Regions from separate parts of the Homo sapiens genome. Here region 2 is linked to region 1. Evidence: fine-mapped expression QTL. A gene starts in region 1. The other region holds a variant in brackets. All regions are shown on one strand. Distances are between the middles of the regions.

The links. PIP is the estimated chance that this variant, and not a neighbour inherited with it, causes the effect.
Region 2: its variant is fine-mapped to the expression of TMEM143 in sun-exposed skin (GTEx, PIP 0.96).

The regions. Positions count from the first base shown.
Region 1 is chr19:48,362,723-48,365,618 of GRCh38, forward strand. TMEM143 (transmembrane protein 143) reads right to left here and starts at 1,218. Exons shown (of 8, transcript NM_018273.4): 1 at 1,176-1,218; 2 at 569-809. The coding sequence starts at 1,198. It overlaps SYNGR4 (synaptogyrin 4), which reads left to right and starts at 1,645. Exons shown (of 5, transcript NM_012451.4): 1 at 1,645-1,815. RefSeq lists enhancers at 770-819, 1,300-1,419, 1,790-1,939.
Region 2 is chr19:48,393,847-48,396,742 of GRCh38, forward strand. It overlaps GRIN2D (glutamate ionotropic receptor NMDA type subunit 2D), which reads left to right. Exons shown (of 14, transcript NM_000836.4): 1 at 1-22; 2 at 812-1,090. It also overlaps a transcript of KDELR1 not described here. Among named protein-coding and RNA genes, the nearest start is that of GRIN2D, 1.6 kb to the left of the region's middle. RefSeq lists a silencer at 2,210-2,393. The variant C/T (reference allele first, on the strand shown) is at 1,449.

The sequences.
Region 1 (2,896 bases):
TAGTCCTGGGCCAGCTCTGGAGTCAGACCACTTTGGTTCAAATCTAAGCCACTATGTTGTGGCCTTGGGTAAGTCACTTTCCTTCCCTATGCTTCCATTATCTCATCTGTAAAATGGGGATGATGGTGGTATCTCTCTTACTGATGATTCAACAATACATGAAAAATGTCTGGCACAGTGCCATGGAGTCAGAGCTCAAATTGTGTGATAATAATTATGATTACAGCGTTGTGACTTTATAGGTACAATTATTATCAGGTAGTAGAAATAGTAATGATGAGGATGATTACTATACCCATCTTAAAGAGGGAAAAACCATGCCCCAGAGAGTGCCTGTTCAAGCCCTCAGAACAAGCCAGAGTTGGGAATGGATGCTGCGTCTGCATCTCGGAGACCTGGCTCCTGCATTCCAGCTCATCTCCCGCCCACTAGGGAAACACGAAGGGACCCGGGAACTACAACTCCCAGGAGGCGCCAGGGCAGCTCTCTGCAGCAACTAGGGCCCTGCCGCCGCGAAGCCTGCTGGGAGCCGTAGTCCCCAGGCTCTTGGGCCTGGGACAGGCGGTACCTGTATTAGGAGGCGGAGCAGCTGCTCCTTGGAGAAGGGAATGAAGCGCTCGCGGTACTGCTGGGCCCAGTCGCGGGGCTCCCTGGGGTTCCACATCTTGCGATACTCCCCCATTTTGGCTGCCAGCGATGAGAGGGCCCGGGGGGGCCCGAGGAGCGCGGGCAACAGTGGCCATACTCGGACCCTGGACCCCCAGACCCCCCGGGTCACATGCAGCATGGCTAGACCCTTTCCCCGGAGCCTAAACAGAGGAAAATGGGCAGGGGTCAAAGGCCATCTAGAGGAAAAGCGCCCTCTCCACCTCCACGTCCCACCCTCCAGAAGCCGTCTCTACCCCAGGCAGGGCGCAGAGCCCATCCGCTCGCCTCAAAGCCCCTGTTGCCTGTCCCCTTCCCACACTGCTCAGTTGGCCTGGGTCCCAGACAGGGGTCAGAGGTCTTAGGTTCTGGGGCGTTTTTCAGGCCCAGAGACCCTGTAGTGGTACAACGTTTCTTTGGGGTCTAGACAGCGAGGTAGATCTTAGGAGAGCAGGAAATGCTCGTAAAGGTTACCTAGGGGGTGCAGGGCCGCCCTCCCTGGCCATGCAATCCCCCGATTTCTCCCTCACCTTAGCCAAAGCTCGACTGTCATTGAGCCTCCTGCGCATGTGCAGGAGGGCGTCCTGGGCTCCCGAGGTTCGGCTTCACCCAGCAGTAAAACGCATGCGCAAAGCTTCGGTCAATGCGGGCTGTCCATTTCTCACCGCCGACTCCCTACATCAACTACGCATGCGTTGCCTGCCTTTCTCCACCGCCGGCCTCGTTTGGGCGCGACGCATGCGCCGCAGGAGTGTCTCCTTGTCAGCTTGCTACAAAGGGAAGGGGCGGTGTGGACGCGAGACTCCCTAGAGGGATGGGGCGGGGTAGGGCTCCCGCGCGCAGTCCGCCAACGGCGCGCAGTCCAACGTTCGCCGAGGCCACGCCCCGGCTCGTGTCAGCTCCTGAGTAGGCGGAAAGAGGGAGGGGGCGGGACTTGGGCGCAGCCAATCAGCTGTGGAGGAGCGAAAAGGCGGGAAAAAGCGGAACCAAAAGAAGGCTGAGGTGGCGCTAGGGACCAGGAGGGGTGGGGGTGGCGAAAGGAAGGGCGGGCCCTCAGGTGACGCAGATTGGCCCTCCAGAGAAGGGGCGGCCCCTTCTCAGGTGCCGTCACCCCCAAACCTCAGCACTGCCATTCCAGGTCCTTAAAGGGGAGACCGCGATTCTAAGAAGGTAGCCCAGTGCCGGGGCGTGGCCTCATTCTGAGGTTCCCCACAAATCCGAGGTCCCGACTCCCAGCTTGAGGAGGTGCACTTCCGTGAAAATGGAGCTGAATTCGAAAGGGAGGCCCTTATTCTGGGAAATGGCCCCAAGTGACAAGGACAGCCTGAAATATGCCCTGAGATACCTGGGTTCTCCACGAAGGGTGCTGTCACCCCCAAACCTGAAAGGGATTATTCGGTTTCAGACCTCCCAGGGGCTCTGATCTCAATGGCCGCACCCCCTAGTCCCCAGAAAGTCCCACCTGTGTCCTCTCACAGAAGGACCCAGTCCCTCTGCAGGCCCTTCAGCTCCTGGGTCACAAGACGTGGTCCCCAAATATCCCAGCCCTCCCCTGCACTCCACCTCTGGGATCCCTGACAGCCCTCTCGCCCAACAACCCCCTCAGCCCACATTCCTGACTTCTGGAACCTGAAGCAGCCCCTTCACTTATGTCCCCCACTCCTGGGACCCCCAGAATCACCCTCACCCCAGGCCCTCACCTCTCTGGAATCCTCCATAGACCCCCTTAACCCACACCTCAACCCAGGGGACCCTTAGCGACTCTCTCATCCTGCACCTCCACCTCTGTGACCCCTGGCAGCCCTCCCCACACGACACCTTGCCTGGGACCCCTAGTATCCCCATCCTATGCCCCCCTCTCCTGGGACCCCCAGAAAGCTCCCTCACCACACACAACCCCATTCCTGGGAACCCCCAGCACCCGCATCCTATGTCCCCCACTTCAGGGACCCCTAGCAGCCCTCTCCACACAACACCTTTCCTGGGACCCCCCAGAACCCCCATCCTATGCCTCCCACTTCTGGGACCCCTAGTAGCCCCCTCACCACACAACCCCATTCCTGGGACCCCCAGCACCCCCATCCTATGCCCCCCACTCCTGGGGCCCACAGAAGCCCCCTCAGCACACACAACCTCATTCCCTGGGACCCACCTGCACCCCCATCCTACGTCCCCGACTTCTGGGGCCCCTGACAGCCCATTCACCCCACACCCTGACTCCTAAGAGGCTCAGCAGTCCCCTCACCCCACA
Region 2 (2,896 bases), 31 kb after region 1:
TCGAGCGTCTGCCATCTGCCCGGTGAGGATCTGTGTGTCCGGGTGTCTGGGGCTGGCTGGTGGAGGGGGGGTGTGTCTGTAAGCGCTGCGGCGGCGGAGGGAGGGAGGGGTCTGTCTGTCTGTACCGACCCTGAGCTGCCTGCCTGGGTGTCGTGGGGCTCCCGCTCCTTCCCCCCGGCCCCCCCAAACCCAGATGGATGGTGTGTACCTGGGTTCTGTGCCTCCTGCCTGCGTCCGGCCAGGCGTCTGGGCGTCCCCGGCTGCCTGTGTCCTCCTGTCTGTCCAAACAGCCCCTATCAGCAGTGGCAGCCTGGCCCCCATTAGACCCCCCACTCTGTGTGTGTGTGTCTGTGTGTGTGTCCCTCCTCAAGCTCTGGGGGTGTTGAGGGGGAATCCCAGGGAAGTGAGATCGTGCGTGTGTGCGTGAGTGTATGTGTGTTTCTGCCTGTGTTTGAGAGTGGGGGAGTCAAGGGGGGGTCTAGAGGTGGCCAAGCGAGGAAGGGGCAAGCAGTTCCCCAAGCAGGCAATCTCCCGCTCCTCACACGCACACACCAGCCACTAGCTTCAGAGGTGACCCAGACAGACAGATAGACACAGACGCTGGAAGGGGGGGTGGGGGGGCTGAGGGCACAAAGCGGGGGTGCGAGTGAGCCAGGGAGAGGCGGGACTGGACACATGGAAAGGGGGGAGGAGCCGGGGCTGAAGCGGCAGAGGGGGGCACCCCGGGTGGGCGGAGGGGGGATCCCCACGGGGTCGGGGCGGCAAGAGGACACCCCGACAGCCTCTGCAATGTCCGGGGCCCAACTTCCAGAGCAACATGTGTAGCCACGTCCTCGCCTAGTCCAGGTGGCCGCAACCTTGGGGGAGAGACAGGGCAGGACAGGACCAAGGAAGAGGAAGGAGAGACGGAGCCAGGGACAGACAGGAGGTCCGGGCTGCCGCTGCTGCCGCCACCACCACTGCCGCCGCCCCGGGGCCTGCCCCCCGACATCGGCTCTCTGAGCCCTCCTCGGAATCTTGGGGTCGCTGGACGCCGGGTTCCGGTCCTGGCCCCCCCGCCATCCCCCCAACAGAACAGGGTCATGAAAAGGTAAGGCGGGGACAGGGGATGCAGGGATGGTGGTGGGAATGTGGACCCCCAAATCTAGGACAGAGGAAGTTGGCAAGAAGCCTCGTGGAGGGAGGGGGTTTGAACGGTGGGCAGGGGTCTTGACCCCCACCTAGCTCCCCTGTCCCTCAGGGACTCTCCTCCACCCTCTCTCTCTCCCTCTCTGAGCCCCTTTTTCCTGAGTCCCTACACCTCAGACCTTTCACGCCCCCATTTCTCTGACACTTGGCTCCCTCTCCCCATCCCCACATACCTGATGCCCCATATCCCTGTGCCTCCATCTCTCTATCTCACCTTCTCCCTGTACCCCCCTCCCTGCATCAGTCCCCCCATCGCGAGC[C/T]GGTCCTCTCCCTCTCTCCTCTCGCTCTCCCCTCCCATGTCAGAGCTATGAGTCTGCTATTAATACCCCCGCCAAGGACCTTGAGGGCATCCAGGCCCCCAGCACCCCTCGCCCCAAGCTCCCACCCCTTCCTCAAGGTTCTGGAACACCCTTCCAGCCTCTTCCAAGCATCAGGATTCGGGTGGGGAGAGACCGATGTTGTGTGTGTGTGTTGGGAGGTGAGGGGGGAGGAAACGGGATGCCGTCTGCAGCACAACTCGAGGTTGTGGGGGGAGCTGTTGATCGAAGTGGCCGCTCCTCTCTTCTCTGTTGGATGCTGTGGGGGGCAATGAAGACAGGGACACCCTAGGAATTTCTGGCACCCTCCTCCTCCTCCCCGCTTGGGGACAGGCTGTGCTATGTACAGGATCTAAGTGGGGTGACTAGGGAGGCCAGAGCTCGGTGGGGGGGCACCCAGGATGTTGGGAAGGATAGGGTTTGAAACCAAAAGGGGATCCTTAAGGGAGGACAGGAGCCGGAACCCGGACTCCTGGGTCCTTGGGGGAAGAGGGGAGCTGGGGACCTGGACTCTTGGTTCCTGCAGGGAGAGGAGGCTGGGCACTGGAGTTCCAGAGTCTTGGGGCAGGAGGGGCCTGGCCTCCTGGGTCCTGGGAAAGAACAGGACCGAATGCCCAGACTCCCAAGGCCTGGGGGAGGAAGGGGCTGCCAGAAGGACTCCTGGGTCTTTACGGGAGGAGGTAGGGGATAGCGCTTCCGTCTGAGGAAGGCAGGCTGGGAGCTCAGTCTCCTGAGTCCCTGACAGGGCAGGAGATGAGTGTTGGGGACTTTAGCCCTATGCAGATGGAAGTGGAAACGGAGGCTCATGAGGAGGTAGAGATGGAGGCGGGGGGAGCGGGGGGTTGTCCAGAGGCTGGACTCTGTGATCCCTGAGGGCGTGGGTTCTGGGGGTTGGGCCTTCAGAGTCCTGGAGGACTGGGGATGCCCCTCCTCAGGCCCTGGAGTGGGGGAGGCTGCTCTCCCTAATCCCTGTGGTTAGGAACTGAGCATGCAGCCCCCGTGAGAAGGGTGGGGCCGGGGGCTGCCCTCCTGGGCCTCAGTAGGGAGTGGGACGCGGGGTCCCTAAGAGCAGAAGCCAGGTAGGGGTGGGTCTGGGAGAGGCAGAGGAGGGGCTGGAGGGTGAGCAGCCACTGGGAATGGAGGGGAGCGTGAGTGTTAACCCCGCGGGGGCCAGGCCACAGCTGTGGGTTATTTTGGGGCGGAGTGGGGGGGTTATTCTGAGCGCTGATTGAGCCAGCTGCTTGGGGAAGGGCAATGGAAAGGAGGAGCGAAGAGAAGCCAGGATCGGGGAGGGATGGGCATACTAGGAGCCCCCAACCCCTTCCCTGGGGAGACAGGGGCCCGAGATCTCTGGGAAGGTGAGGTGGTGGGCAGAGGGGACGGGCTGTGGC